4 separate regions of the Homo sapiens genome follow, and regions 1, 3 and 4 are each linked to region 2. The links come from fine-mapping of genetic effects on gene expression. A gene starts in region 2. Each other region holds a variant in brackets. All regions are shown on one strand. Distances are from middle to middle.

Region 1 (8,101 bases), 250 kb before region 2:
AGGAGGACGGGGACCTCCCGAGTTGGCAGGGTGGACCCGCAGCGAAGAGGCCTGAGCGCCAGCCCCGACCCCGTAGCCACACCTACCCCCCCATCCAAATTAAGTCCTGACATCCTGAAGTCACAAGGTTTGCAAATGCCAGGAAAGTGAAGAAAGGAAGCCAACGAGGGGACTCAACGACCTCAACTGTTCTGGGACAGGGGAGTCCCCAAGACCCCGGCACAGGCAGCCTTTATTATGCTGTGAGACTGCAATGAAGAAATCCCGGAGCGTCATCGCCACCTCGTGGGAGCCTCTGGTACCGCAAGCACTGGGTTATTTGAGGCGGGTAAACCCCTTGCATTTCACCTGAAGGGGTGCAGGTGTCTCCAGGAGGCTCAGAGGGAATTAGCTCTTTTGGGTAGGAGGGAGGGCAGAGTTGACATCCTTTCTGAGCTTGCCCCTGCGAGGGCGTTGGGCACAGTTAATGAGATTTCCGGCTTAGCCTCTCTGCCTTGGGGGAAAGTGGGACTGGCTTGGTCCCTCACCCACCTCCAGCTGGTTGACCAGACCCTGGGGAGCTTGGGTGGAGCCCCTCTTGAAGCTGCTTTTTCCCCTTGAGAGGTCAGGCAGTGACCTTGAGGCAGGCCTGGATCAGCCCCATCTCTCCTCAGTGCCCATGGTCCAGTGGACGCGGCTTTATCTACTCCCACTGGGCCTCAGTACCCGCCAGCCCCTCTGGCTGCTTTGTAGGTCTATCAGCCACAGCCCTCTGGCACCTGAGGGCCATTCGTTGTGGATCTGGGTGGTCCTAGAGGCTCCCCACTCCCAGGAGGACTATGGCCATCCCCTTCCCAAAGTAGCAGCCCAATAACGGGCTCCCAGTGAGGCTCCTGGCTTCTGAGCATTGCCTAGCAGGCGTATCAAACCAAAGGCTGCATGAAGCTTGCGGGAACCCAGCCACGGAAAAGTCGGCATCACACACCCGTGCAAGAGTGTGGTTGGCACGCACTTCTGGGGAGGGTGGGTCACCTGAGGCAGAGCCGTCTGGAGAGGGGCTTTGTGGGATGTCCAGCCCTGGGGGACTAGGACACCACCTGTCAGGCCTGGCCTTGCTTGGCCAGGGCTCCCACCCTGTGCCCTACTCTGTCACAGGCTCATACTGCTTCCCAGGGAATCCTTGCTTCACAGAAGGGCTGCCTGCCTGCCTCCAGACCAATGACCTGGTGGCAGTGGCCCCACCTGGGCCCACACCCCTACCCAGAAGCAGCAGCTTCACGGTTCGAGCATCCTTCTCAGCGTCCTCTTTCAGCTTCTTTTCCAGCTCCCTGGAGTGCTTCTCCTCAGCACTGGCCCCAGCCCCCATGGTCCCAGCAGCAGGCGAAGGGACAGAGTGAGCAGGTGGTTCTTCTGGATGGAGGGGATCCCCAGAACCTGGCCTCCCAGGCACCCTTCTGGCCCCAGGAGGACCTGCAATCAACTGGCTCTCTACGGACCTGTGCAATCCCTGGTGGGGCTGCTTAGTGGGATTTGGGGGCTAGGGGTGTCCAAGAGCCAATCAGAGACAAGGACAGGTGAATCCAGCTCAGCCCCCCCAACCCTTCTAATCGGGCTGGCATAGCCCCAATCCCTCAACCGCTGACTCTGCACTCCGGCTGTCCTTCTGTCCCCGCAACCCTCCAGGAGAGGCCCTGGCACTGCCTGGGAGTGGGGAGACATGTTCAGTAGGGTCAGGGCTGAGAAAGGGGAAGGCAGAACCTTGAGCCCTGGGGGTGAGGACAATGGAGGTGGGGCTGGCAGTGAGAGGGCATAATTGGGAGAAACATGCCTGCTGCCTGCCCGGCACCAGGCTCAGCACCACTCCTTATCTTGTTGTAAGCTCACACTGGCCCTGGAGTATGGATGCCCATATCATCAGCCTCATTTTACTGATGAGGAAGTAAAGGCTGAAAGGGTCACACAGTAGGAAGTGGTTAAGAAGGGCTGGTGACTCTGGACTGGGATTTTATGACCTGCAGGGAATCCAGAGAGAGGGAAACAGTGGGCATTGCATTCATCCCATATCACAGGCTGGAGCTGCCCCAAGGAGGTCCTCTGCTTCCAGCGGACTGTGGTGGGCATGCATATCTGCTCTGTGTGCCTCGGTGTATGTGTCTTTTTTTTTTTTTTTTCTGAGATGGAGTCTCGCTCTGTTGCTCAGGCTGGAGTGCAGTGGCGCAATCTCAGCTCACTGCAAGCTCCACCTCCCAGGTTCACGCCATTCTCCTGCCTCAGCCTCCTGAGTAGCTGGGACAACAGGTGCCCGCCACTACGTCGGGCTACTTTTTTTGTATTTTAGTAAAGACAGGGTTTCACCGTGTTAGCCAGGATGGTCTCAGTCTCCTGACCTCGTGATCTGCCCGCCTCGGCCTCCCAAAGTGCTGGGATTACAGGCATGAGCCACCGTGCCTGGCCTTTTTTTTTTTTTTTTTTTTTTTTTTTTGAGACAGAGTTTCACTCTGTTGCCAGGCTTGAGTGCTGTGACACGATCTTGGCTCACTGCAACCTTCAACTCCCTGGTTTAAGCTTCTCCCACCTCAGCCTCCCAAGTAGCTGGGATTACGGGCATGTGCCACCATACCCAGCTAATTTTTTGTGTATTTTTAGTAGAGACGGGGTTTCACCATGTTGGTCAGGATGGTCTCGATCTCCTGACCTTGTGATCCACCCACCTCGGCCTCCCAAAGTGCTGGGATTCAGGTGTGAGCCACCTCGCCCGGCCATGGGTGTGTCTTTTGCTGGCACCAAGCGAGCAATAACTTGACACATTTGTGCATGAATACCTGTGTGTACATGTGTGCCTGCATGTTTATGCCTTTGTGAGTGCATGTGCTCTTATAGGAATCACGTGCCTGTGCGCATGCTTATGTATGTGTGCACATGTATACACATGTGTATGCATGTGTGAATATGCTTTGTGTATTCTCTTCATGCACACATAGGCTTGTGTGTTTTGCAGTTTGTGTAGGTTTGCATGTGTGCACTTGCTTATACGCAGGGGTGTAAACATGCCTGTTTGTACCTGAGCATATGTGTGCCTGTGCATGTCCATCTCTGCCTGTGTATGACTGTGTGTGTGCATGCATGCTTGCAGGCGCCTGTGCCTATATGTACACTTGAATTTGGGTGCAACAAAGTCTCTAATCTGCAGAAGTGGCCAGGCTCTTCCAGAGAATGTTTTGCAGGCCTGTTGCCAGGTGGAGAAATTGCATCCCAGAGCAGGTGTAGTGTTCCCTGGGGTATGGAGGAATGGGGCTCACCTATCCTGCTCCTGCTCTGTCTGCTGTGGGTGCTCTGAGGCCTGCCTAAGATTATCTCCAGGGCCTGCCTGCCTCAGCTTAGGGGGTCTGGTGCTCTGTTCAGGTGCAGGGCTCACTGCCGGGCAGAAATTGTTCAGGTTGAGCTCCCAGGTTCTAGAGACTTCCCACCCTCAACTTCCATAGGAAAACCCAAATCTTGGGCTCTCAAAGGCTCCTCCAGGCACCCTGAGCCTCCTGGCTGGACTCTTCCCTGGAACCTGGCTGCCTTTCAGCACTCAACTCTGCCACAGACTCAAGAGACCACAAGGGGGTGCCGGGGCACCAGACACTGAGCACTAACGGCTGTCTCTAAATAGTATGCGTGGGAAGTGAATGCTGGCTCCTACCACAGGCTGGCAGCTTCTACACCCACCCTGTTGGATGATGGGGATCTGTCCAGGAGTGAGGCCGTTGCATTTCTGCCACTTTCAGCCTTCAGGCTCCACCCACCCTCCCTGACCCTGAGGAGTGAGTGGGCCCTGAGGGGTCTCTACAGCCCTTCGCACTACCCAAGTGTTTGGGGTGGTGCAGCAGCCCAGGTTTGTCAAACTAAATGTGGTTTCTACATGTTGGGTTTCTTTAAATGGAGCCAATCTACTCCCTTCCCAGCCCCCCACCTGGCTCCCCAGGCCCACCACGTGTGGCTCTAAATCCCCTGACCAAGGAGAGAAGCCAAAGTCTAGTCCCAGAGCCAGTGTTTATTAGCAAGATGGAACCCAAAGGCGGCTGTGGCCTGGGCAGCAGAAGGCCACCAGGAGCCCCCACCCATCTACCCAACTGCCCCCCAGAGCTAATTACATCCACACCCATCCCCTGAAGTGGTGGACATAAGGGAGCCCTGGGGAGCCTCTACCGGCCCCAGGCCTCTACCACGGACCCCCTCCCCTCAGAGCTGGGGCCTCCCGTCAGCTCTGCCTGGGCCTGGCCCCTCTGCTATGCTCCCAGCCTCTGAGTCAAAGTGGCACAGGGAAAGCTAAGGAGGTAGAGTGGGGTGGCCCTGCCCTGGCCAGGCGGGGAGGGGAGAAGGGGCTGAAGAGGCTGTCCCACCCAGGCAGGATGCCTCTTCTCCTATCCCCAATAAATAGAGAATAAATACCCAGGAAGGGGCTGGTCGTGGCTGAGTGCCCCCAACCCAGGCAGGGGCTGGCATCCTGTGATGGCCCCTTCTTCCCTTCTCTGTGTGCTCTTGAGGCCACCCCAGTCTCCAAAGTGGTCCTCGCATCCATGTCTATGCCACAGCACAGGCTGACAACACACATCAGAAAAGGTGGACAGTCCGTGCCCCATCCGAGTAGGGCTTGCTCCCTCCCTTTGTCCTGTAGATCTTGGCGGAGGCTGTCCAGCAGGTAGACTTCCAGCTGAGTCTGGGGACTGTGTGGTCCTGGCCTGGCCCCACCAACTGGCTGGGCCTGGTTAGGCAGGCTCTGTTTTCTGCCGTCTCTGACCAGCATGGGTCTAAGTTTTGGAGGATGCTGCCACTGAGGCAGGCTATATTCAACCCACCAATAAATACTGTCTTTGCAGGGGCAGGGTGTGTATAGAATATAGATATTTTATATATATATATATATATATATATCTTTTATATTAAAAGGGACAAGGGCTAGGCTGGCCCATG[G/A]CAGGCACAGGCAGCTGGCCTCATGTGTCCGGAGGGTGGTGCCGGCGGTTCCGGGGCTTTTTCTGGTCCTGGGGCTCAGGAGACCGGGGTGCCCCTGGAGCCTCCCTGGGGCTGGGGGGCACATGGCGCCAGTAACCCTGGCAGTACTGGTGGATGAGGCCCACTTCTGGCTGGGCCAGCAGCTGGGCTAACTCCTGGTAAGGAGGCGTTGGGGGGCCTGCGCCTGGGGGTGGCGGGGCGCTCATGGACAGTGGTGGGAAGAGGGCAGCATGGACGGCGTCCCGGCCCAGTACATGCAGCTGCACTCGTGTGACGACGTGCTTAAAGTTGTTCTCAGTGGCTGTGCAGGAGTAGAGGCCACGATCGCTGAGCTGCAGTGCACGGAGCAACAAGCCCTGCTCTGTGCGCAGGAAGCGGTCCTCTGCACGAATCTGCAGGGGCAAGGAGAGGGGGTTCAGAGGCTCTGTGACCACCCTATGGCCCTAGCCAGCAACCAGATCAGACCACCTTTGTGGCCATTCCGTGTAGAGGCACCCATGTGGGATTTCCATATGCCAGAAAAACCACATGAAGTTTCTACATAATGAGAGATATTTGAATAAGGCATCTGTACAGATTTCCATTTCAGGAGTGATGACCATAAGGAGGTTCTGTACAATGAGGAAAATTTGAAGCACACACAGAATTCCTTTTTTTTTTTTTTTTTTTTTTTTGAGACAAGGTCTGGCTCTGTCGCCTAGGCTAGAATGCAGTTGAATGATCTCGGTTTACTGCAACCTCTGCCTCCCAGGCTCAAGCCATCCTCCCACCTTAGCCTCCCAAGTAGCTGGGACCACATGCATGACTATGCCCAGCTAATTTTTGTATTTTTGGTAGAGAGAGGGTTTCACCATGTTGCCCAGGCTGGTCTCGAACCCCTGACCTCAAGCAATTTGCCTGTCTTGGCTTCCCAAAGTGTTGGGGTTACAGGTGTGAGCCACCACGTCCAGCCAGAATTTCCATTTAACGAGAATATCCAATTGGGATAACCACATAGAATTTCCACATAAACAGGGACACCTGTAGGGCATTTTCATAAAATGAGGGCCCCATAGAATTTCCACATACTGGAGCTCACTCACATGATGTTTTTGTAGAAGGTACACCCCCAATGTGGTATGCATATGGAATTTTCATGTGAACAGGCATACCCAGAAACACTTTCCATAGAATGAGGCCAATCCCAGGGAGTTTCCATGTAACTGTTTTCACTCAAAGGATTTGCATGTAGGGAAGGGAGCTTGGAAGGGGTTTCACAGCATGAGAGTTGCTCCAGATCACTCCTCTACTACATTTCACCACTGTGCAAGGACTCACATCCACGGTGCAGCACCGGGCGCAGGAACTCACCTCTCGGCGCCGGTCACCAGGATCTCGCTGGAACAGCCACTTAACAGTGGCTTGGGGCGAGCGGGGCTGGCACTCAAGGAAGGCTGCGCTGCCGGCCACGCCATACTGCACAGACTCCACGGCATTCTTGTTGGCTTTAGAGTGAGAGGGGTTGAGCAAAAGCAGCATCACCTCCGGGCAGCCTGCTGACTGCTTCGGGGCAGGCACCGAGGGGCACCCACTCACCAATGTAGTGCTCTGTGTTGATGGGGCAACTAGGGACATCCCATCTCCATTAGCCCCCACCCTCCATTAGCCATCAGAGCACCCTTACAGTGGGGGCCCTGTGAGCAGCTTCGTGGGCTGCGTGGACTTCTGCAGTGTGAGCAGCACCCCACAGTGAGGCCCAGCATACTCACCATTGGAGTTGAACCCACGGCACTGCCTGATGGGGTTTCCGTGCCGGACGTCCTGCCGGCGGCTCCGCCTGGATGAGGATAGCCCCTGAAGGAGTGCTCCCAGGAAGCTTGCCCCCCCAGGTCCCTGTATCTCCCTGACTCCAGGGCAGGGCCCTTTTTCCCCAGGGCAGTGATGTCTTACCCATAAGACTCCCCTAGGGTAATATCACATGCACCCCGGGTAATATCACATGCACCCCCAATCCCCTAGGATAGGGCCCTGGGACTGGTTGCTAAAATTCTAGGTGTCTAGGGGTCCACACCTCTTGGAGGATGCTGTATAGCGGGAGCAGGCCTGGCCATCCCAGGCACAGTAAGGGTCCCGGGCAAGGCAGCAGTCAGCACAGGCAGCCCCATACGCCTGGCAGCGGTGCAGGCTCAGGTGTGTGACACCCACGGCTGACGCCACGTAGAGTTGTTGCTGGGGCAAAGGGTAGGGCCTTGTCAGTTCCTGTCCCATAGCCAGCCCCACCAACAGCCAGCTAGGCTGGGCTCCTCTCCCCTGTTCCATGCCTCAGTTTACCCATCCCTGTGCCAAGGGCATGACCCTGAGGGGATGCAGGCCCTGTCCCCAACCTTGGCTCACCTCGCCAAAGGCTTACCCTCTTAGAAGAGATGGTCATGGTCTTGACGGGTGCTGGATCCTAGAAAAAGATAAAGATCAGCTTGGGATGCCAGGGACCCCCTCCCTGCCCTGACCTAGAGGTCTCAGGTCAGAGGCTGGGACTGGGGGGAGGGTAAAGGTGGGGAGGTCAGGACTGGGTGGTGTCACACCCACCTTGAAGACCTCCACCTCCTCCAGCATGAGCTCCTCCAACTCCTGGTCATCCTTGGGCAGCACAATGACCTTCTGCACTGTCCCGCGGTCTGGAACGGGCCGGGCAGGGCCTCAGTGGGGCTGGGGATGCTGGGGAAGGGGTACCAGCCTCAGCCCCTTCCCCCACCAGGGCCCAAACCCCCCTAGGGCATTGGAGCTGGAGCTTTGTGCCAAGGTGGAAGAGTTTCCCCAGGTCAAAGGGGACTGGCCCAGGACATAGGGGGTCATGGCCATGGTCTGCCCCCACCAACCCAGACCCTGATTTTGGGCCCTGCTGAGAACAGGACACTGGGGCATGCATTCTCCTGTGTTTGGGCTGCTGGAACTGTAGGGGGTGCACTGTGGCATGTGTGTGCACACACGAGCATGTGTATGGCCTCTGTATCCTGGAGGTGCCTACCATCTGTCTCCACCCCTTTCCTGCCATACATACATAAGTCCCCAGATGCCCAGTGTCCCTGTTCTCCTGGGCCCCTGGGGATGGAAGTGGGAATGGGGTTTTCTCACCCCTAGCCTCTGTTAT
Region 2 (8,101 bases):
ATAAAAATTAAACAAAAAAATTAGCTGGTTGTGGCAGCCCATGCCTGTAGTCCCAGCTACTCAGGAAGCTGAGGCGGGATGACTGCTTGAGCTCGAGTTCGAGGCTGCAGTGAGCCATGACTGTGCCACTGAACTCCAGCCTGGGCAACAGAGCAAGACCCTGTCTCAAAAAAAAATAAATAAAATAATTAATAATAATAATAATTACCATATAGCAATTTCCCTTCTGGGTATATACCCAAAAGAATTCAAAGCAGGGACTCAAAGAGATATTTGTACACCAATGATCACAGCATCATTATTTACAATAGTCAAAAGGCAGAAGCAACCCAAGTGTCTGCTACAAATGAATTAATAAACAAAATGTAGTGTACACACACAACGGATTAAGCCTTAAAAAGGAATGAAATTCTGATACACAGTACAACATGGATCAACCTTGAAACCATTACACTAAGTGAAATAAACCAGACACAAAAAAGGACAATACTGTATGATTCCATTTAGTATTTGCAGTACCTAGAACAAGCACACTCACAGACAGACACAAAGTAGATTAGAGATTAAGAGGAGGAAATGGGAAGTTAACTTGTTTAATGGTTACAGTTTCTTTTTTTCTTTTTTTTTGAGATGGAGTCTGGCTGTGCAGCCCAGGCTGAAGTGCAATGGCATGACCTCAGCTCACTGCAACCTCTGCCTCCTTAGTAGCTGGTGTTACAGATGCATGCCACCATGCATGGCTAATTTTTGTATTTTTAGTAGATACGGGGTTTCACCATGTTGGCCAGGCTGTTCTTGAACTCCTGAACTCAAGTGATCTGCCCACGTTGACCTCCCAAAGTGCTGGGATTACAGGCGTGAGCCACCATGCCCTCCCTGGTTACAGAGTTTCTGTTTGAGATACTAAAGTTTCAGAAATAGTGGTATTGCTTGTACTACATTGTGAATGTAATTAATACCATTGAATTGTATACTTTTTTTTTTTTTTTTTGAGATGGAGTCTCGGAGTCTCGCTCTGTTGCCCAGGCTGGAGTGCAGTGGCGCAATCTCGGCTCACTGCAAGCTCCGCCTCTCGGGTTCACACCATTCTCCTGCCTCAGCCTCCTGAGTACCTGGGACTACAGGCGCCCACCACCACGCACGGCTCATTTTTTGTATTTTTAGTAGAGATGGGGTTTCACCGTGTTAGCCAGGATGGTCTCGATCTCCTGACCTCGTGATCCGCCCACCTCGGCGTCCCAAAGTGCTGGGATTACAGGCGTGAGCCACCGTGCCTGGCTGAATTGTATACTTAACAATGGTTTAAAGAGCAAATTTTGTTAAAATATACATAAACATACATAAAAATATATATTTACCACAATTTATTTAATTGATTTTTTTTTTTTTGAGACAGTCTTGTTCTGTGGCCCAGGTTGGAGTGCAGTGGCACTATCTCCCCTTACTACAACCTCTACCTCCCCGGCTCAAGCGATTTTTCCATCTCAGCCTCCTGAGTAGTTAGGGCTAACAGGAGCATGCCACCACGCCTGGCTAATTTTTTTTTTTTGTATTTTTTGTAGAGACAGGGTTTTGCGATGTTGCCCAGGCTCACAATTTGTTTTAGAAATACTATAACAGGGCCGGGCACGGTGGCTCACGCCTGTAATCCCAGCACTTTGGGAGGCCAAGGCAGGTGGATCACCTGAGGTCAGTAGTTCAAGACCAGCCTGGCCAACATAGCGAAACTCCGCCTCTACTAAAAAAATACAAAAAATTAGCTGGGCATAAGGCGAAACGCTGCCTCTACTATGTTGGTTTTTGTTGAGTTTTGCGGGTTTTTTTTTTTTTTTTTTTTTTTTTTTTTTGAGACAGAGTTTCACTCTTGTGGCCCAGGCTGGAGTGCAATGGAGCAATCTCAGCTCACCGCAACCTCCGCCTCCCAGGTTCAAGCGATTCTCCTGCCTCAGCCTCCCAAGTAGCTGGGATTACAGGCATGTGCCACCATGCCCGGCTAATTTTGTACTTTTAGTAGAGACGCGGTTTCTCCATGTTAGTCAGGCTGGTCTCGAACTCCCCACCTCAGCCTCCCAAAGTGCTGGGATTACAGGTGTGAGCCACCAGGCTCGGCCTGGTAATAGAATTCTATAAGGAAAGGTGCTACAACTATCCAGAGAGACCTGGGACCTGTCCTGCAGGTTAGGTATCTAGTTAGATGCTAGTTTCTGAGACAAGGTTCAAATTCAACTTTTGTGTTTCACCAAAATGGTAACATATTATTTAGTTACTTTCTTCACTGCCAGTCCTACCATCACGCACCAGCTCTTGACACCTCTCGTTAGAGACCTCACAAATTCAGTAATGGTGACATATTTAAATCATTCACGCTGGTGGCATTTCTCAATAGGAAGGTGGAAACTAGCAAGCCGAGGGCACAATCCAGGGTTCAGAAAATGAACCAGGTGACCATGTCTGCATGTCTACTGAACTCCTTCACTTAAATCCGGCTACTCTGACCTTCACAAGCAAACCTGGAATATGCAAAAAATACAATTACGCTCACGGTTTATGTACCCTACGAAACAGGGCCCTTCCTTCAAAAAAAAAAAAAAAAAAAAGGCATTCCCAAAGTTGAACCCATTCGCCTAACGTCAATTCTAAAATAAAGAGAAAAACATCTATTTACACCGCTAATGGAATCTAAAGCGTGAATACGATAAAACATCCTTCTCCTTCATTGCCTAACGGGCGCAGAACCCACCAGACCACTCTCCCGCTTCCAGGTTCTACCGCCCCGACGACCGGGCTCGGAGCTCTTGTGCCCTCCGGTCCAGCGGAGCCTCCCTTGTGTCTGTCCAAGTCTGAGGACGAGGCTACGTGCTAAGCACAAGAGCTCCCTTCCTAGTGATGCCACAGAATTGGATCTGAAACAGGAAAACCGCAAGAACAGCCCGCTTACAGCTCCGAAGAGTAGGAGCACAGAGCCGCAACCACGCGCCGGCCCCAGCCTCACAGCTGGCCGCTCCGCGGCGGGACCGGTAATCTACTGCCGCGCCGGGCCCCGCCCCAGGCCCGCGACGGTTCCGGGGCGTTCCTGCCACGGGCGGCGCCTCCCTCATCTCACCGTTGCTTGGTCTTCTTCCCGAGCGAGGCCGCAGCCGCCCCGCGACACTGAAGCCACAGCTTTCAGGCTGCGCGGGCCTGCGATGTCTAGAGCGGGCCTGTCTGCTGGCTATTCCCTGGCAGGCTCTGGCACGCCTCCCCTCCAGTCCCGGGCCCTTACCTAGGCGGCGAAGCCTCCACGGCCCGCTCCTCCTTCTCCTCAGCCTCCGCCACCGACCCAGCGCCGCGGACACCGGAACTTCCTCCGCGCGGGGCCACTGCTACCACAAAGGCGCCGCGCCGCTGCCTTCAGCGCTCGGCCCGCTGGGAGATGAAGTACAGCTGCCGGTCCCGCAGACTCTTACTCCCGCCGTGCCCCGCGCGCAGGGGACTTGCCTTCTGGGGTGGGTCGTAAGAGCACGCTGTCCATCGCCATCCAATAAGAAGGCGCGCTTACCCGCCCTACTCCGCGTGACCTGCTGGGAGTTGTGGTTTGGCCTCTGCCCTGTGACACCTGGTCCTCTTGTGCTTTCCTCTCAGTTGATTGAGGCTTACAGTTTTTTGGTGGCTTGACTTTCCTGAGGTTTGCTCCCTGCCAGCAGCTCGGGTACGGCCCTGGCCTGCCTAGCTCGAGGCCTCCTTATTGTCCGTTAGTGTGAGAGAAATGGAAGGGAGCTTCTTCGGGAGTAAGTTTAAGCCATCTCCAGCTGGTTGGCGGGGCGCGGTGGCTCACGCCTGTAATCCCAGCACTTTGGTAGGCCGCGGCGAGTGGACCACCTGAGGTCAGGAGTTCTAGACCAGCCTGGCCAACATGGTGAAACCCCATCTCTACCAAAAATACAAAAATTACCCGGGCTTGGTGGCAGGTGCCTGTAATCCCAGCTACTCGGGAGGCTGAGGCAGGAGAATCACTTAAACCCGGGAGGCAGAGGCAGAGGTTGCAGTGAGCCGACACTGTGCCACTGCACTCCAGCCTGGACAATAGAGCAAGACTCCACCTCAGAAAAAAAGAAAGAAAGAAAAAGGCCGGGCGCAGTGGCTCATGCTTGTAATCCTAGCACTTTGGGAGGCCGAGGTGGGTGGATCACGAGGTCAGGAGTTCAAGACCAGCCTGGCCAAGATAGTGAAACCCCATCGCTACTAAAAATACAAAAAGTAGCCAGGCGTGGTGGCGCATGCCTGTAATCCCAGCTACTCAGGAGGCTGAGGCAGAGAATTGCTTGAACCCGGGAAGCACAGGTTGCAGTGAGCCGAGATCGCGCCACTGCACTGTTGCCTGGCAACAGCGCAAGACTCCGTCTCAAAAGAAAGAAAGAAAGAAAGAAGTTGGGCGCAGTGGCTCACGACTGTAATCCCAGCACTGTGGGAGGCCGAGGCGGGTGGATCACGAGGTCAGGAGATCAAGACCATCCTGGCTAACACGATGAAACCCTGTCTCTACTAAAAACACAAAAAATTAGTGGAGCGTGGTGGCGGGCACCTGTAGTCCCAGCTACTCAGGAGGCTGAGGCAGGAGAATGACGTGAACCCGGGAGGCGGAGCTTGCAGTGAGTCGAGATAGCGCCACTGCACTCCAGCCTAGGCGACAGAGGGAGACTGTCGCAAAAAAAAAAAAAAATTACCCGGGCTTGGTGGCAGGCGCCTGTAATCCCAGCTACTCGGGAGGCTGAGGCAGGAGAATCACTTAAACCCGGGAGGCAGAGATTGCAGTGAGCCTAGACTGTGTCACTGCACTCCAGCCTGGACAATAGAGCAAGACTCCGTCTCAGAAAAAAGGAAAGAAAGAAAGAGGCCGGGCGCAGTGCCTCACGCTTGTAATCCTAGCACTTTGGGAGGCCGAGGCGGGTGGATCACGAGGTCAGGAGTTCAAGACCAGTCTGGCCAAGATGGTGAAACCCCGTCTCTACTAAAAATACAAAAATTACCCGGGCGTGGTGGCGCATGCCTGTAATCTCAGCTACTCAGGAGGCTGAGGCAGAGAATTGCTTGAACCCGGGAGGCGGATGTTGCCGTGAGCCGAGATCGCGCCACTGCACTCCAGCCTCACAACAGAGCAAGACTCCGTCTCAAAAAAGAAAAAGAAAGAGGTTGGGCGCAGTGGCTCACGCTTGTAATCCCAGCACTTTGGGAGGCCGCGGCGGGCGGATCACGAAGTCAGGAGATCGAGACCATCCTGGCTAACACGGTGAAACCCTGTCTCTACTAAAAATACAAAAAATTAGCCGAGCGTGGCGGCAGCCGCCTGTAGTCCCAGCTACTGGGGAGGCTGAGGCAGGAGAGTGGCATGAACCCGGGAGGCGGAGCTTGCAGTGAGCCGAGATTTGCGCCACTGCACACCAGCCTGGGCGACAGAGCAAGACTCCGTCTGAAAAAAAAGAAAGAAAGAAAAGGGGCTGATGGCCGTGCACCCACAGAAGGCCCTGGCTCCTGGCCCTCCCAGCCCTTCTACCTGAAACCTGACAATAGGTACAACAGAAAAACTTGGATTAGAGAATCAATATGTCATGGAGGCTCATCCCCTTTTCCTTTATCTCCATGCATTTGCTCATAATCTATTCTTTTTCTTTCTTTCTTTCTTTTTTTTAGAGACAAGGTCTCACTATGTTGCCCAGGCTGGTCTCGAACTCCTGAACTAAAGCAATTTCCTTCCCCTCCACTCAGCCCCTTTTCCTTCTGATGAGTTTCCAAATTATGTATTCCCTGCTCAAGAATAGCAGACAGGCTCATGCCTGTAATCCCAGCATTTTGGGAGGCCAAAGTGGGCGGGTCACCTGAGGTCAGGAGTTCAAGACCAGCCTGACCACCATGGTGAAACCTCGTCTCTACTAAAAATACAAAAATTAGCCAGGCACGGTGGCAGGCGCCTGTAATCCCCAGCTGGTCGGGTGGCTGAGGCAGGAGAATCGCTTGAACCCGGGAGGTGGAGGTTGCAGTGAGGTGAGATCACACCAGTGCACTCCAGCCTGGGGGACAGAGCAAGACTCCATCTCAAAAACAAACAAAACAAAAAAAAAAACTTCATCTGTGTTAAAGGTTCAACCCATAAAGGAAAAGCCACCCAGCTTCCACAGGTCTTGCTAGCTCTTGGGCAATAAATCTGGCCAAGACTGACTTGTGCAAGGTCACAGAGGAGCTGGAAGGAAACTGCAAGTCAGCAATCTAGCAGAAAACGGGGCAACACAACTCGATTTGCAGCTCGTTTCCAGCATCTTCAACCTAATGTTCTTCCAACTGCCAGCTTGAAGTTCTTAGGTGTACTGTCTACATTGTTGAAAGACTTGCTAGTCTTGGCCATCTGGTGTTCCTGTCAGTGGGCCCTTAGGGAAGGTAACCTGATTTTATAGCCTAAATTCAACATTATGGGATCAAAAAAGTCTTCTGCAAGAAAAGCCCATTAAACATTCAAAAATAAAGTACACTTAGGCCAGGAATGGAGGCTTACGCCTGTAATCCCAGCACTTTGGGAGGCTGAGGTGGGTGGATCATGAGTTAACAAGTACAAGACCAGCCTGGCCAACATGGTGAAACCCCGTCTCTACTAAAAATTCAAAAATTAGCTAGGCATGGTGGCACACACCTGTAATCCCAGCTACTCGGGAAGCTGAGGCAGGAGAATCACTTGAACCCGGGAGGCAGAGGTTGCAATGAGCCAAGATCGCACCATTGCACTCCAGCTCTGGGCAATTGAGCGAGACTGTCTCAAAGGCTGGGCGTGGTGGCTCACGCCTGTAATCCCAGACTTTGGGAGGCCGAGGCAGGCAGATCACGACGTCAAGAGATCGAGACCATTCTGGCCAACATGGTGAAACCCCGTCTCTACTAAAAATACAAAAATTAGCTGGGCTTGGTGGCGTGTGCCTGTGGTCCCAGCTACTTGGGAGGCTGAGGCAGGAGAATTGCTTGAACCCTGGAGACAGAGGTTGCAGTGAGCTGAGATTGTGCCACTGCACTCCAGCCTGGTGACAGAGACTCCAACTCAAAAAAAGAAAAAAAAAAAGATACACAATCTCTCTGGTGGTGGTAATGCTATGGAGAAAAATAAGGGAGGGAAGGAGAGTGAGGAGTTCTGGTGGGAAGTTGTAACTTTAGAGCAGTGAGGGAAGGCCTCACTGAGCTCTTGGAATAAAGACCCAAAGAAGATGAGAACCAAGCTATTGGGATACCTGGGGAAAGAATGTTCTGAACAGAAAGAATAGCAAGGCCAAAGGCCCTGAGGTATGAGCATGACTAGAATTTTTAAGGATCATTAAGGAGTCTGGAACAGAATTGTTTTGGAGAAGTGTGATGAGACAAGTCAGTCTTGGTCAGAAAGGTGTGGAGGTTGCAGTACAGTGGCACGATCATAGCTCACTACAGCCTCGAACTCCTGGGTTCAAACAATGTGGTTGGATTATTGCAGCAGCCTCCCAACTAGCTGTTCTGCTTCTCCCCTTTCCCACCTTCAGTCTGTTTTCCACACAGCAATCAGAGGAATCCTGTTAACATGGAATTCAGGTTATGATATCTCTCTGTTCAGAGCCCTCTAACAACTTTCCATCTCCCTCCTTACAGAAACCAAATTCAGCAGCCTACAAGACTTGGAAGAAGCCACAATCATGCCACTGTATTTCAGCCTGAGCAACAGAGCAAGACCCCATCTCAAGGAAAAAAAAATTCCAACCACAGAAGGATGGTGCTTGCAGCAGTGTGGCCACAGTAGAAACAGGAGACAGACCTGTTGGACTGGAATGAAGGAAGATAGGGAAGAATTTGGGAGAAACAGTTTTGGTAGGAAGAGCAGGAGCTCAGTTTTGGGTAGGTAGAGTTTTCTAATAACCAGTAGACAAGTGAGATGTGGAGCTGGAAGTCGGTTCCATCAGTCTGGAGTTCAGGATAAAGATCAGGACTAGAGATGCAAATCTGGGAGGTATCAGCATGTTGCTAATATCTAAAGCCACAGGCCTGGATGAGATAACCAAGGGAGTAAAGGAGTAAGCAGAGATGGGAAAGCAAAGTTTAAGCCTTGAACACCTAGGCCACA
Region 3 (8,101 bases), 31 kb before region 2:
GGGAATCCAAGGCGGGTGGATAACCTGAGGTCAGGAGTTCGAGACCAGCCTGGCTAACATGGTGAAACCCCATTTCTACTAAAAATACAAAAATTAGCCTGGTGTGGTGGCACACACCTGTAATCCCAGCTACTTGGAAGGCTGAGGCAGGAGAATCACTTGAACCTGGAAGGCTGAGGCTGCAGTGAGCTGAGATCATGACACTGCACTCCAGCCTGGGCAACAGAGCGAGACACTATCTTTAAAAAAAAAAAAAAAAAAAAAAAAAAAAAATTGGCCGGGCACGGTGGCTCACGCCTGTAATCCCAGCACTTTGGGAGGCCGAGGTGGGCAGATCACAAGGTCAGGAGATTGAGACCATCCTGGCTAACACGGTAAAACCCCGTTTCTACTAAAAAATACAAGAAATTAGCCAGGCGTGGTGGCGGGCACCTGTAGTCCCAGCTACTTGGGAGGCTGAGGCAGAAGAATGGCGTGAACCCGGGAGAAGGAGCTTGCAGTGAGCCAAGATCGCACCACTGCATTCCAGCCTGGGCAACAGAGCGAGACTCCATCTCAAAAAAAAAAAAAAAATTAGCCAGGAGTACTGGCTCACACCTATAATCCCAGCTACTCGGGAGGATAGTTTGAGCCCAGGAGTTTGAGGCTGTAGTGAGCCTTGATTGGGCCATTGCACTCCAGTCTGGAGTACCCTGTCTCAAAAATAAATAAATAAATATTTAAAAATTCTCAGGTACATAGGAAAAGCAGGGCCAGAAGCGGTGGCTCACATCTGTAATCCTAGCACTTTGGGAGGCCGAGACAGGCGGATCATGACGTCAGGGGATCGAGACCATCCTAGCTAACACGGTGAAACCCCGTCTCTACTAAAAATACAAAAACTTAGCCGGGCGTGGTGGCACATGCCTGTAGTCCCAGCTACTCAGGAGGCTGAGGCAGGAGAACCATTTGAACCCGAGAGGCGGAGGTTGCAGTGACCCAAGATTGTGCCACTGCACTCCAGCCTGGGTGACAGAGCAAGACTCTGTCTCAAAAACAAACAAACAAACAAACAAACAAAATGCTGGGCGCGGTGGCTCATGCGTGTAATCTCAGCACTTTGAGAGGCCGAGGCGGGTGGATCACTTGAGGTCAGGAGTTCAAGATCAGCCTGACCAAGATGGTGAAACCCCATCTCTACTAAAAATACAAAAATCAGCTGGGTGCAGTGGCAGGTGCTTGTAATCCCAGCTACTTGGGAGGCTGAGGCAGGAGAATCTCTTGAACCCTGGCGGCAGAGGTTGCAGTGAGCCGAGATCGCGCCACTGCACTCCAGCCTGGGTGACAGAGTGAGACTCTGTCTCAAAAAAAAAAAAAAAAAAAGAAAAGCAGAAGAGCATAACCTTCAAAGGCTTAAGCTCTGAAATCATACTGTGTGCATTCCAAGCTCTCTGCTCACTTGCTGTGTAACCTTTTAGTGTCCAGTTTCTCATGTGTTAAATATAAAATGATGTACTGGGTTCATTACAGTCCAGGGCCACAGCACTTCCTCAGCATGAACTGCCTGGGCAGTTCATTTCCCCATATTCATATAAACTGTTCTCTCACGGCATTCAAGCCTGGGCTCGAATGCCTCTTCCTCAGTGATGTCTCCCTAACTACACAATACAAAAAACAGCCCCATTAGCATGCATGCCCGTGGTCCCAGCTACTCAGGAGGCTGAGGTGGTAGGATCGATTGAGCCCAAGAGGTAGAAGCTGCAGTGAGCCGTGATTGTGCCACTGCACTCCAGCCTGGGCAACAAAGTGAGACGCTGCCTCAAAAAAATCAAAAATGGGCTGGGCTTGGTGGCTCATGCCTGTAATGGCAGTACTTTGGGAGGCAGAAGCAGGGAGATAACCTGAGGTCAGGAGTTCAAGACCAGCCTGACCAATGTGGTGAAACTCCGTCTCTACTAAAAGTACAAAAATTAGCTGGGCGTGGTGGTGTGTGCCTGTAGTCCCAGCTACTCGGGAGGCTGCGGCAGGAGAACTGCTTGAACTGGGGAGGTGGAGGTTGCAGTGCACCAAGGTCGCGCCACACACTCCAGCCTGGGCGACAAAGCAAGACTCTGTCTCCGAGTTACAGGCCGAGCTACCATGCCCCGCCTGTACTTTAGTTTTCTTCAGAGTATTTATTTGCTGACTAAAATTGTGTAATCCTTTTGCTTGCTTTTTCATTATCCATGGAGGCAGTGACTTGATAATATACACTGCTGTGTCACTCAGTATCTAGAACAATTACATACAGTAATGCTTAATATTTAGAGTGATTATATTAAATATGTGATAATTAAATGAACTAATGCTTGTAAGTATCACACAATGCCTGGCACAGAGCGAGCACTGCCATAAGTTCAGACTTAATTTAGTCAGCCAATCCTTTGATACAGGGCAGTTAGGCAGTTTCTAGTTTTTACTATTGTAAATAAACTGCATCCTTATGTACATACTCCAGAAATAATATGCTCTAAAGGATGTGATCAGGTCTAAAGAGAGCAATCATTTGTCATAATTTTTTTTAACCTCACCTCAGTGAGTGCATGTATAAATGGTGAAATCTGAATAAACTTTATGTATTATACCAGGGTCAATTTCCTGGTTTAGATACTATACCACAGTTGTGCAAAATATTAACACTGAGGGAAGATGGGAAAAAAATACACAAGACTTCTCTGTGCATTTCTTTGCACCTTCTTGTGAATCTACAATTTTTCAAATTAAAAGGTTTTTTTAATTTTTAATTGACACAGAGAAACAGGAGAGAAGACATGCCTTACCTCTTCTTTTGTGGCATCTTCAGGTACCCCACTTAATCGAATAAGCCTGCTGGGTTTCTCCTCACTTGGGCCGGTCCTATAATCTTGATCCTTAAATTGAGAATGAAAAATTATTTCACAAATATACTTTACTGCACAAAACACAAATCAACATGAAATTTAGCCACTCAGGATCAAAAATGATAATGACATGTCACGTGAAGATATAAAAAATTACAATTTTCTCTATTGTTCTGAGTGCCAGAATGTGACTTCAAATCATAAGAATGTAAATGTGCTAAGACCAAGTCTCACTGAAAGAGTCTTCAAAGTAAAGCAAAACATTACGAGAGACAAGACTGAGTAAGACTTTAATAACCAGAAAGACACACTAACATAGTCTCAAAACAGTAATTTTCTCAGCCTAGCCAACATGGTAAAACCGTCTCTACTAAAAATACAAAAATTAGCCAACTGTGCTGTGCACGCCTGTGGTCCCAGCTACTCAGGAGGCTGAGGCGGAAGAATCACTTGAACCTGGGAGGCAGAGGTTTCAGTGAGCCAAGATTGTGCCACTGCACTCCAGCCTGGGTGACAGAGCGAGACCCCCGTCTCAAAAAAAAAGAAAAATTTCCCTGGTCTGAGAGCTGGAGAATGGGCTGTAAACTAGCAGTACTTCATACCTCTGGTGAGAGAAGATGACTAGATAATGTCTTTTTTTTTTTGAGACAGAGTGTCGCTCTGTCGCCCAGGCTGGAGTGCAGTGGCACAATCTCAGCCCACTGCAGCCTCCGCCCCCCAGGTTCAAGCAATTCTCCTGCCTCAGCCTCCCAAGTAGTTGGGATTACAGGCGCCCACCTCCACACCTGGCTGGTTTTGGTTTTCGTTTTTTTTTTTTTTTTCAGATGGAGTTTCGCTCTTGCTGCCCAGGCTGGAGTGTAATAGTGCAACCTCTGCCTCCCCGCAACCTCTGCCTCCCAGGTTCAAGGGATTCTCCTGCCTCAGCCTCCCGAGTAGCTGGGATTACACACATGCATCACTACGCCCAGCTAATTTTGTATTTTTAGTAGAAATGGGGTTTCTCCGTGTTGGTCAGGCTGGTCTCAAACCCACGACCTCAAATGATCCACCTGCCTCAGCTTCCCAAAGTGTTGGGATTACAGGCAAGAACCACCACGCCTGGCCTAATTTTTGTTATTTTTAGTAGAGATGGGGTTTCACCATGTTGACCAGGCTGGTCTTGAAATCCTGACCTCAAATGATCTGCCCACCTTTGCCTCCCAAAGTGTTGGGATTACAGGCATGAGCCACTGTGCCTGGCCTTATTTTTCTTCCCCACCCTCACATTCTCTCCTGAGGTTGCACCACACTGGTCTCAAGTTCCTGGCCTCAAGTGATCCTCCCACCTCAGCCTCCTAAAGCACTGAAATTACAAGCATAGGCCACTGTACCCAGCCAAATCTACTTTAAAAGAGAATACCTTCATTGTAAAATTACAAATATAACCCTCCTTGCTTAAATCATATATTCAAGAAGTTTAACATTTAAGTTAATTACGTTAGCTGCAAGAGGATAGTTGCAACATTAATATCAGCTCTTCACAACTAGGGAGACTCCTAAGTATTCTCTCAATGAATTTAAATAAGAAAATGATCCCTAAACAATCACAGGTCTAACTAAGCGAGAGTTGCAAGAGTCAACTCCCAAAGACATATACTTTCAAACTAAATTATCCCAAGGCATGTAAATCAGCATCATAAAACAAAATAATGAATAAACACACATCAAAAGGGTAGGGGCAGTGGCTCATTGCTGTAATCCCAGCACTTTGGGAAGCTAAGGTGGGGGGACTGCTTGAACCCAGGAATTTGAAACCAGCCTGGGAAATATGTTGCAACCTTCTGTCTACAAAAAAATACAAAAATTGCTGGCCAGGCATGGTGGTGCATGCCTGAAATCCCAGCTCTTTGGGAAGCTGAGAAGGGTGGATCATTTGAGATCAGGGGTTCCAGCCCAGCCTAGGTAACATGCCTAAACTTCATCTCTACAAAAAATACAAAAATTAGTCAGATTTGGTGGTGCACAACTACAGTCCCAACTACTCAGGAGGCTGAGGCAGGAAGACTGCTTGAACACGGGAGGCGGAGGTTGCTGTGAGCCAAGAT[C/T]GTGCCACTGCACTCCAGCCTAGGCAACACGGTGAGGCTCCATCTCAAAAAAGAAAAAAAAAAACACAACTAACTAGGAATGGTGAAATATACCTGTAGTCCCAGCTTCCTGGAAGGCTGAGGCGGGGGAACCCCTTGAACCCAGGAGGTAGAGGTTGCAGTGAGCTGAGATCGCACAACTGCACTTCAGCCTGAGCGACAGAGCAAGACTCATTCTCAAAGGAAAAAAAAAAAAACTAGCCAGGCATAGTGGCTGGCGCACATCTGTAGTTCCAGCTACTCAGAAGGCTGAGGTGGGAGGATCGCTTGAGCCTGGGAGGTCAAGGCTGCAAGGAGCCATAATTACACCACCGCACTTCAGCCCGAGTGACAGAGCAAGACCGTGTCTCAAATATATATATATATAGTTCCTTCATATATACACACACATATATACACAAATGGAAAGTGAAGCAGGAAGAAAAGAATAAAAGAAAAAAGAAATATATATATATAAATATATATTCATATATATACATATATATTCATATATATATATACACACACACACACATATATATGATCTGAGCTGAGGACCTTTTCTCTAGAGATTTACATTCCTACATTCCACTCCTGAATACAAATTTTGCTTTCTAATGGTTATGCAAAGATAAAAATAAAATGAAAAAAAAAAAAAAAAACTGGCCAGGCACGGTGGCTCATGCCTGTAATTCCAGCACTTTGGGAGGCCGAGGTGGGCGGATCACGAGGTCAGGAGTTCGAGACCAGCCTGGCCAACATGGTGAAACCCCATCTGCACTAAAAATACAAAAATTAACTGGGCATGGTGGCACATGCCTGCAATCCCTGCTACTCAGGAGGTTGAGGCAGGAAAATTGCTTGACCCTGGGAGGCGGAGGTTGCAGTGAGCTGAGATTATGTCACTGCACTCTAGCCTGGGTGACAGAGCAAGACTCCGTTTCAAAAATAAATAAATAAATAAATAAATAAATGTCATCCTTCACAAAAGTCTTATTTAAAGAAAAAAAAAAAAAGCAGGCCGGGCGCGGTGGCTCACACCAGGCGTGGTGGTGGGCGCCTGTAGTCAGTCCCAGCTACTCAGGAGGCTGAGGCAGGAGAATGGCATGAACCCAGGAGGCGGAGCTTGCATGAGCAGAGATCGCACCACTGCACTCCAGGCTGGGCAACAGAGCGAGACTCCGTCTCAAAAAAAAAAAAAAAAAAAAAAAAAAAAGCAATCCACCCCATCAACATACCTGAAGGTCCCGTTGGGCATCTCGGGCAGTTTTGCCCTCTGGAAAAGACTTGCTCTGGCCATAGCCAAACATCTGGCTTCCTGGCAGCCTATGATCCACATCACGGTACTCCATGCTTCTGTAATCGGTGTCTTGCCGCCCAAGAAAGTCCAGACCGCCTTCTTCTTTAAACAGACCAGCATCTGAACTCTGCTCTTCACGTCCAGAAAGCTGTGACTTATCTTGGTCTTGAACTGGACTTTGGCTGTTCTGAAAGTCTGCTGGAGACTCATGTTCAAAGGCTACACCTTGTGTTTCTCCTTCTCTTGTTTCTGAATGCTCAAATTCTCCCTTCTGAATGCCAAAAGCAGGCCTTTCTATCGTATGGTCATGTGTGGATTCTTCTCTCCTGTTCACATTCATACCAGAATGTTCTCTATCTTGTGTAGAGGGCTGAATGTAATCCAAAATATTTGGATCCACAGGGGGCATCTCCCTATCTTTAAATTCCATACAAGATCCCATCTCTCTGCCCCTAAAATCCTGATCAGTCCTAGATCGGTGTCTACCTCTGAAATCTGAATGTGGCGTATCCCTGTCCCTAAAGTCTAGATCAGTAGTACCTGAACCTCGGCCTCTAAAGTCTACTTGTGTTCCGTCTTTGTCTCTAAAGTCCAAATCAGATACATCTCTATTCCTAAAATCAGAACGGGACTGTTCTCTGGCCCTAAAATCCAAATCTGATAAATCCCTTCCCCTAAAATCTGCATGGGATCCATCCCGGCCTCTAAAATCTAAATCATAAGTGCCCCGGCCCCTGAAGTCAGATGGAGGAGCATCCCTACCTCTGAAGTCAACAGCGTGAGCATCCCTGTCTCTGTAGTTCATATGAGGTGCCTCCCTACCTCTATAATCCATAGAAGTACCATCTCCACCCCTATAGTCCATAGGTGGTCCTTCTCTATCCCGAAAATCCCCAGAATGTATGTCCCTACCCCTGAAGTCCAACTGTGATGAATCTCTGCTCTGGAAATCAGAAGACGAAAAATCTCCCCCCCTGAAATCATGTCCAGGTCCCTCCCCTCCTCGATAGTCACCATGCGGTCCGTCTCTAGCTCCATAGCTGAAAGAATGCTCCTCTACATTTGCAAAAGGAGGCCCCGAATGCCCCTGGAAATCAAAGGGAAGTGAATCTCTGCCAGGAAAGTTGCCAGAGTGTCTCTCTTGAGCATGACTCTTAAGGGGAGGAGGAGGATAATCCCTGTTCCACCCGGGAGCAAACCTTTCTTCTTGGCTCCCACTGTAGAAACAAAGACAGTGTTATTCATATTGTCCAGAGAGTTTGAAATCTACACACCAGCATATTCTTCTCTAATCACAGCACATTCTTCTGTAAACATTTTTTTTTTGGCAGAGTTCTGTAACAAGGTCCTAGATCTGCAGAAAACAGCAAAGTTTTGCTATTTTAAGACGAAGTGGCGGAGTAAACTTTTATGCTCCCATTTCAGAACACGAGGAAAGTCAACACAAGGTTTTCAACATGACTGCTGCAGAAAAAGCTTTCACCCAGTCCTGCAACAGGGAAAATCCGCAATACCAAATAAGCTAACAATGGTGACATACTACAAAAATTTCCATTTCCTACAGCCAGGGAACTTAAGAATTCCAAGGTCAACATGACGATTCCTATATATCAGAAAAATCAATGCACTGTAAATTTCTTACAGTAAGTTTCAGGAGGTATCTTTCTCACGCTGCATCCAGCGGTAACATTCAAAAATATTTTATTACAGATACAGCATGGACACCACCCAATCAAAATGGATGCAGGCCCAAAAAGAAGAAACACTGGTTGTAAATCACCAGTAGGAACAAGCACACCAGTGTTCACCAGCTGAGCATCAGCCCTGGCTGCATCTAAATC
Region 4 (8,101 bases), 830 kb after region 2:
CTCCCACTCCAGAGTTGTTGCTCGATTGGAGGCAGAGTGCAGAAGAGGTGATTGTCAAGCTTCGTGTGGGAGTAGGTCCCCTGCAGCTGGAGGATGTAGATGCTGCTTTCACAGATACAGACTGTGTGGTGCGGTTTGCAGGTGTGTCCATCTGCCCTGAGCACAGTAGTATGTTTGAATCTTCTGATATCTCCTATCCTACCTCATGGACCCTGCTCTGTCCCCAGGTGGTCAGCAGTGGGGTGGTGTCTTCTATGCTGAGATAAAAAGCTCTTGTGCTAAAGTGCAAACCCGCAAGGGCAGTCTCCTGCACCTGACACTGCCCAAAAAGGTGCCTATGCTCACGTGGCCCTCCCTCCTGGTGAGTTCTAGTAGTACAGGGTTGGGTAGGGATACCAGTGTAGTCGACAGGGCCTGACTGCTGTATCTTTGGCAGAAGAAACCTCTAGGGACCCAGGAGCTGGTGCCGGGGCTGCGGTGCCAGGAGAATGGGCAGGAACTGTCTCCCATTGCCCTGGAGCCAGGCCCTGAGCCCCACCGGGCTAAGCAGGAGGCCCGGAACCAGAAGCGGGCCCAGGGCCGTGGTGAGGTAGGCGCAGGGGCTGGCCCCGGGGCCCAGGCAGGGCCCAGCGCCAAGAGGGCTGTGCATCTCTGCAGAGGGCCAGAGGGGGACGGGTCCAGGGATGACCCTGGACCCCGGGGTGATGCCCCACCCTTCGTGGCTGACCCAGCCACCCAGGTGAGAGCTGGGCACCTGTTTGGGTGTTAGGAGATGGGGGGAAAGGGTGTGCACTGGAGTGGGAGCCACCTGGCAGACCCAGGGCTGATTCTTTCCACAATCTTGCCATTAATAGGTTGAGGCTGATGAACAGCTTTGCATACCACCGCTGAACTCCCAAACCTGCCTCCTGGGCTCAGAGGAGAATTTAGCCCCTTTGGCAGGAGAGAAAGCAGTGCCTCCCGGGAATGACCCAGTCTCTCCAGCCATGGTCCGGAGCAGAAACCCTGGGAAAGATGACTGTGCCAAGGAGGAGATGGCAGTGGCAGCAGATGCTGCAACCTTGGTGGATGGTAAAGGTGGGGGTGGGCAGGCAGAGCCCTAGGTTGGGTTGCAAAGTTTGTAGGTGGATAGAGAGTAGCAATAGGCTGGAACCTGTCCTGGTTGGGGCTGAGCCATGGTCTCAATATAGAGCCCGAGTCGATGGTGAACCTGGCGTTTGTCAAGAATGACTCGTATGAGAAGGGCCCGGATTCAGTGGTGGTGCACGTGTACGTGAAGGAGATCTGCAGGGACACCTCAAGAGTACTTTTCCGTGAGCAGGACTTCACGCTCATCTTCCAGACCAGGTGGGTGGGTAGATGATGGGGCAAACAATGCCTCAGGTGGGACAGTATGTCTCATGCTCTTCCTCTTGTCCTTCCTCCTATCCTGCTGTGCCTCTGCAGGGATGGAAACTTCCTGAGGCTGCACCCGGGCTGTGGGCCCCACACCACCTTCCGTTGGCAGGTGAAGCTCAGGTGGGTGGTGCCCGGCCCCACCACTGTGCCTGTCCTACCCCGTGGGCTCCATCTCCCTGGCTCATCTATCCTGATGCTCATTCCTCCTAAGTCCCTGAGTTCAGCCTTTTCCCACAGGAATCTGATTGAGCCAGAGCAGTGCACCTTCTGTTTCACGGCTTCTCGCATCGACATCTGCCTTCGTAAGAGGCAGAGTCAGCGCTGGGGGGGCCTGGAGGCCCCGGCTGCACGAGGTCTGCACACGAGCTCCCTTCATTGCCCAGTTCCACGTGACCAGGACCCAAACCCCTGTCACATGCTGCTAACCACCAGCCCTCTCATTCCCCCTTTTTAAGGTGCAGTGGGTGGTGCAAAGGTTGCCGTGCCGACAGGTCCAACCCCTCTGGATTCAACCCCACCAGGAGGTGCTCCCCACCCCCTGACAGGCCAGGAGGAGGCCCGGGCTGTGGAGAAGGATAAATCCAAGGCACGATCTGAGGACACAGGGCTAGACAGTGTGGCAACCCGCACACCCATGGAGCATGTAACCCCAAAGCCAGAGACACACCTGGCCTCGGTGAGAATTCTGGGGTGGGAAGGACGAAGAATGGAGGCTGGAGAGTCTTGGGGCTGTTCTCTCATGTCGTCTTTGCTCCTGCAGCCCAAGCCTACATGCATGGTGCCTCCCATGCCCCACAGCCCAGTTAGTGGAGACAGCGTGGAGGAGGAGGAAGAGGAAGAGAAGAAGGTGTGTCTGCCAGGCTTCACTGGCCTTGTCAATTTAGGCAACACCTGCTTCATGAACAGCGTCATTCAGTCTCTGTCCAACACTCGGGAACTCCGGGACTTCTTCCATGGTGAGGGCAGGGCCTGGAGCCTGGGTTATGGGCAGAGAGAGTGCCTTTGTTCCTCACACCTTTGCTCGGCTACTATTCCTAGACCGCTCCTTTGAGGCTGAGATCAACTACAACAACCCACTAGGGACTGGTGGGCGTCTGGCCATTGGCTTTGCCGTGCTGCTTCGGGCGCTGTGGAAGGGCACCCACCATGCCTTCCAGCCTTCCAAGTTGAAGGTGATCTGTGACCACTGTCACCCTTGGCTGGAGGGGGCGGGGAGGGCCAGCCAGCTGGGTGTGCAGTGGGTGCTAGGGCTTCATGTTCACACCTTGGCTCCTGTATCCAGGCCATTGTGGCGAGTAAGGCCAGCCAGTTCACAGGCTATGCACAGCATGATGCCCAGGAGTTCATGGCTTTCCTGCTGGATGGGCTGCACGAGGACCTGAATCGCATTCAGAACAAGCCCTACACAGAGACCGTGGATTCAGATGGGCGGCCCGATGAGGTCAGGGTTAGGGACAGAGGGTGGGCATGTCTCATGAGCATCCCAGCCCCTGGTACTCTTTGGTTCTCACCACTCTGCCTCTCAGGTGGTAGCTGAGGAAGCATGGCAGCGGCACAAGATGAGGAATGACTCTTTCATCGTGGACCTATTTCAGGGGCAGTACAAGTCGAAGCTGGTGTGCCCTGTGTGTGCCAAGGTGTGATGGGCTCCCCTGGAAAGAGACCCCCTAGTTCAGCTCAGCTATTCTGGTCACATTAGGTTCAGAGGCATGTGCATCTTAAGGTGCTACAGGGCAAGGTTTGGGCAAAGAAGCTGGCAGGGAGGCCTTAGGATTCTATTTGGGCTGAAGAGCCCACTCAGGGTAGGCTTCCTGACTGAGGGAAAAGTGATGTTAGAGCTCAAAGGTGTTGTAGCAGGGTTGTGGGCACATGGGGTGCAAGTGTGAGGCCAATTCGTAAAGTGGCTAAGCTGAGTAGGGCTTTGAGTGCCAGAAAGAAGGATTGTTATTTCCTGGTGGTCCTCCTGCCCTGTCTAGTGTCCTGAAGCCTGAGAGTTTGCTGGTTGGCTGTGGGGGCCCTGAGAGCCATCAGAAGCCCCGGAATGGGCTCTCTGAGCATGAGCATCTTATCTCCCACTCTGTGTGCAGCTACCCAGTGCCACCTCTACATCCACAGGTCTCCATCACTTTTGACCCGTTTCTTTATCTGCCGGTGCCCTTGCCACAAAAGCAAAAGGTTCTCCCTGTCTTTTATTTTGCCCGAGAGCCCCACAGCAAGCCCATCAAGGTGAGGAGTAAGCCCCTACCCTCTGGGCTGTTCTAGAGAACGTGGCCCACCTCCCTCACTGACTGCCCTTTTTGCCACAGTTCCTGGTGAGCGTCAGCAAGGAGAACTCCACTGCGAGCGAAGTATTGGACTCCCTCTCTCAGAGTGTTCATGTGAAGCCTGAGAACCTGCGTTTGGC[G/A]GAGGTATCTTTGTCCTTCCTTGGGCTATCACATGTGTGGATGTGTGTGTGTACTCACCACAGACGTGTGTACAGTCATTGGCATCTACAGACATACACATGGGCTGGGCACAGTGGCTCATGCCTGTAGTCCCAGCACTTTGTGAGGCCGAGGTGGGCAGATCACTTGAGCCCAGGAGTTTGGGACCAGCCTGGGCAACTTGGTGAAACACTGTCTCTACAAGAAATAAAATTAGCTGGGCATGGTGGTACGTGTTATAGTCCCAGCTACTTGGGAGGCTGAGGCAAGAGGCTCACTTGAGCCCGGGATGTGGAGGTTGCAGTGAGCAGAGATTGCACCACAGCACTCCAGCCTGGGTGACAGAGTGAGACTCTGTCTCAAAAATAAATAAATAAATAGATAAAAAAATAAAAATAGGGCCAGGCGTGGTGGCTCATGCCTGTAATCCCAGCTCTTTGGGAGGCCAAGGCTGATGGATCACAAGGTCAGGAGATCCAGACCACCCTGGCTTACATGGTGAAACCCCACCTCTACTAAAAATACAGGAAAAGTTAGCCGGGCGTGGTGGCACATGTCTGTAGTCCCAGCTGCTCAGGAGGCTGAGGCAGGAGAATCGCTTGAACCTGGGAGGCAGAGGTTGCAGTGAGCCGAGATCGCGCCACTGCACTCCAGCCTGGGTGACAGAGTGAGACTCTGTCTCAAAAATAAAATAAAATAAAATAAAAATAGACATACACATGAGTATGCCTGTGACTGTACAAAAACAGGCGATGTGCTGTTATTTTTTCTGTGCAACAGAAGTGCCCTCAGTTCCTAGCCATTATCAGGGTTTATTCCCCTTTGTGGTGGTGGATCCCAACTGCATTTCCCTTTTTAGACAAGGAGCTTGAGCTGCAGGACTATCCCTATGTTCGCTCTGCCTCTCCCTCTATCCTGCTGCTCTCTCCTTTTATCCCAGTTGTGTGTGCTAGCTCTCCCCAGGGGTTCCTAGCCTTTAGCCTGACAGTGTTGGTTTTCTTAGGGGTAAGAGTGGGGAGGAGGCTCTTTGAATGTGGACCCTCCATGATAATATGTTACAGTCTTATAAGGCTATGCTAGTTATAGCAGGGCAGAGTCCCTCAGTGTGGAGAGCTGGTGTGGTTGATATCTGCCTCACACCTGGTCTTTCAGGCCCTCTGATGCACCAGGCTCCTTATGGCATTGGGCACTGAGACAGGTGCCAGCAGAGGCATAAGCCTATTTGGGCCTACAGACCTCACCACTGCCCACATAGACCCAAGGCAGGGCCAAGCCTTCTTAAACTCTGGGGCAGGGCTAGGGAAAGGGCTTATCCTCACGTGGGATCTGTGTGTTCTCTGTCCCCAGGTAATTAAGAATCGTTTTCATCGTGTGTTCCTACCCTCCCACTCACTGGACACTGTGTCCCCATCTGATACGCTCCTCTGCTTTGAGCTGCTATCCTCAGAGTTGGCTAAGGAGCGGGTAGTGGTGCTAGAGGTGCAACAGGTGAGTGGGGGCCAACCTGATGGCACAGCGCCCTGGTGGGTGGGGCACTTCTTCCTGGTCTTGCTGAGCCAGACGACCCACCCTAGCGCCCCCAGGTGCCCAGCGTCCCCATCTCCAAGTGTGCAGCCTGCCAGCGGAAGCAACAGTCGGAGGATGAAAAGCTGAAGCGCTGTACCCGGTGCTACCGTGTGGGCTACTGCAACCAGTGAGGACCCCCATGGTCTCCCCTACCCTTTCTTTCCACCTTCCATGTGCCACCCTGCTCCTTCCCTTCACACCAAGGCACATATGCTTAAGCTTTCTACTTGCCACCCTACTTTACCAGGCTCTGGGGGAGGCAGGGCTGGCGTACCCAGTTCCCAGGGACTATGACTAGCCCCCAGTATGGAGTCATAGGAGATGGGGCTAAGGGCCTATCCTTGTCTTCCTCTTCCCGTCAGGCTCTGCCAGAAAACCCACTGGCCTGACCACAAGGGCCTCTGCCGACCTGAGAACATTGGCTACCCCTTCCTGGTCAGTGTACCTGCCTCACGCCTCACTTATGCCCGCCTCGCTCAGTTGCTAGAGGGCTATGCCCGGTAAGTGCCCAGTGGTTGGACTAGAGTGGTGTAGGTGGGGGCAGAGGTGCTAGATGGGCTGGTCAGGAGTCTTACTTGCGTTGTTCTCTGTTGCCAGGTACTCTGTGAGTGTATTCCAGCCACCCTTTCAGCCAGGCCGCATGGCCTTGGAGTCTCAGAGCCCTGGCTGCACCACACTGCTCTCCACAGGTTCCCTGGAGGCTGGGGACAGCGAGAGAGACCCCATTCAGCCACCTGAGCTCCAGCTGGTGACCCCTATGGCTGAGGGGGACACAGGGCTTCCCCGGGTGTGGGCAGCCCCTGACCGGGGTCCTGTGCCCAGCACCAGTGGAATTTCTTCTGAGATGCTGGCCAGTGGGCCCATTGAGGTTGGCTCCTTGCCAGCTGGCGAGAGGGTGTCCCGACCCGAAGGTAAGATCCAGTGAAAGGCTCTAGAAGCTGGGGAGGAGGATAAGGGAGGATGGAGGGGGCTGTTGTTTAGGGCCTGGTGGGCCTGGTGAGGCCCTGATGGGCAGGGAAGCTTTGATTATCATGTTCTCACACAGCTGCTGTGCCTGGGTACCAGCATCCAAGTGAAGCTATGAATGCCCACACACCCCAGTTCTTCATCTATAAAATTGATTCATCCAACCGAGAGCAGCGGCTAGAGGACAAAGGTGTCTGAGGCTGTGGGTGGGAGCCATGGGGTGGGTTGAGCTGGCTGTTCTCCACAGCTGCATGACCTCTCTCCCTGCGAATCTCCAGGAGACACCCCACTGGAGCTGGGTGACGACTGTAGCCTGGCTCTCGTCTGGCGGAACAATGAGCGCTTGCAGGAGTTTGTGTTGGTAGCCTCCAAGGAGCTGGAATGTGCTGAGGATCCAGGCTCTGCCGGTGAGGCTGCCCGGGCCGGCCACTTCACCCTGGACCAGTGCCTCAACCTCTTCACACGGCCTGAGGTGCTGGCACCCGAGGAGGCCTGGTGAGAACAGAGCAGCAAGTAGATAAGGGGGCAGGATGGAGAAGAGAGAGACTTGCTGGTCCTGACCCAATCTCTGTCCCCACCAGGTACTGCCCACAGTGCAAACAGCACCGTGAGGCCTCCAAGCAGCTGTTGCTATGGCGCCTGCCAAATGTTCTCATCGTGCAGCTCAAGCGCTTCTCCTTTCGTAGTTTTATCTGGCGTGACAAGATCAATGACTTGGTGGAGTTCCCTGTTAGGTAAGCAGTGGACCTTGGTAACTGTGGGTGGGGTGTGAGGACCAGGATGGGCATCCTGAGCGCCTGTTGCCTGTCTCACCCCTCCCTGACTGGACCTGACCTGCAGGAACCTGGACCTGAGCAAGTTCTGCATTGGTCAGAAAGAGGAGCAGCTGCCCAGCTACGATCTATATGCTGTCATCAACCACTATGGAGGCATGATTGGTGGCCACTACACTGCCTGTGCACGCCTGCCCAATGATCGTAGCAGTCAGCGCAGTGACGTGGGTGAGGGCACACACAGCCAGCAGGATAGGTGGTAGGGGTGGTGGTGCAGACTTTGTTCACACTCTTCCCACCCTGCTGTAGGCTGGCGCTTGTTTGATGACAGCACAGTGACAACGGTAGACGAGAGCCAGGTTGTGACGCGTTATGCCTATGTACTCTTCTACCGCCGGCGGAACTCTCCTGTGGAGAGGCCCCCCAGGGCAGGTCACTCTGAGCACCACCCAGACCTAGGCCCTGCAGCTGAGGCTGCTGCCAGCCAGGTGAGGCATGTGGGAGGCTTTACAGAATACTGGGGGACAGTTCACAGACTGGGGCCGGGTTGGGGGATATAGCTTCCTCTCCTCCAGCCACAGGCCCATTGAGCCTTGGGATTCATGAGAATTGCAGAGTTCTCTTAACATCAAAGCTTTAGCCAGAGGCATCCCCATGCCTTGGGGACACTAACAAACATACAAGTACACTAACATGCTGCCACTGGCAAGCACATTGGCACCTACTTGGCACAGGTCAGGCAACTGCTCTGAACCTCACTGGGCACTATGCTGTGAATGAACTATACCTGACACTCTCCTAGATTTCCTCTGCACATTCCCCACATGCTGGCCCACACACCCTCACTTGTGATGTCCCTGAGTTCTAGTGTGCACTCAAGACAAGGCCTATTTGGGCTGGCCATGGCCTCTGGTGGCTGTTATACTCTTTGAGGTAAGCATCTGTCTTTGCTGAGCCTTCAGGATCTTCTCTTTA

The links.
Region 1: its variant is fine-mapped to the expression of RBM6 in whole blood (TOPMed, PIP above 0.99).
Region 3: its variant is fine-mapped to the expression of RBM6 in whole blood (TOPMed, PIP above 0.99).
Region 4: its variant is fine-mapped to the expression of RBM6 in whole blood (TOPMed, PIP above 0.99).

What each region holds. Positions count from the first base shown.
Region 1 is chr3:50,184,970-50,193,070 of GRCh38, reverse strand. SEMA3F (semaphorin 3F) reads right to left here. Exons shown (of 19, transcript NM_004186.5): 14 at 7,540-7,628; 15 at 7,364-7,405; 16 at 7,025-7,182; 17 at 6,723-6,790; 18 at 6,325-6,458; 19 at 3,996-5,366. The coding sequence ends at 4,956. It overlaps GNAT1 (G protein subunit alpha transducin 1), which reads right to left and starts at 1,461. Exons shown (of 9, transcript NM_144499.3): 1 at 1,240-1,461. The coding sequence starts at 1,345. The variant G/A (reference allele first, on the strand shown) is at 4,936.
Region 2 is chr3:49,935,387-49,943,487 of GRCh38, reverse strand. RBM6 (RNA binding motif protein 6) reads right to left here and starts at 3,338. Exons shown (of 21, transcript NM_005777.3): 1 at 3,263-3,338. RefSeq lists a silencer at 2,908-3,107 and enhancers at 2,664-3,185, 3,248-3,307, 3,338-3,387, 3,418-3,477, 3,186-3,708.
Region 3 is chr3:49,966,846-49,974,946 of GRCh38, reverse strand. RBM6 (RNA binding motif protein 6) reads right to left here. Exons shown (of 21, transcript NM_005777.3): 3 at 6,199-7,477; 4 at 2,799-2,888. Among named protein-coding and RNA genes, the nearest start is that of RBM6, 31 kb to the right of the region's middle. The variant C/T (reference allele first, on the strand shown) is at 4,943.
Region 4 is chr3:49,109,697-49,117,797 of GRCh38, reverse strand. It overlaps USP19 (ubiquitin specific peptidase 19), which reads left to right. Exons shown (of 27, transcript NM_001199161.2): 4 at 1-141; 5 at 228-361; 6 at 437-739; 7 at 855-1,071; 8 at 1,191-1,347; 9 at 1,447-1,518; 10 at 1,636-1,751; 11 at 1,854-2,074; 12 at 2,159-2,354; 13 at 2,437-2,570; 14 at 2,681-2,839; 15 at 2,925-3,035; 16 at 3,514-3,624; 17 at 3,705-3,806; 9 more. Among named protein-coding and RNA genes, the nearest start is that of USP19, 7.1 kb to the left of the region's middle. The variant G/A (reference allele first, on the strand shown) is at 3,803.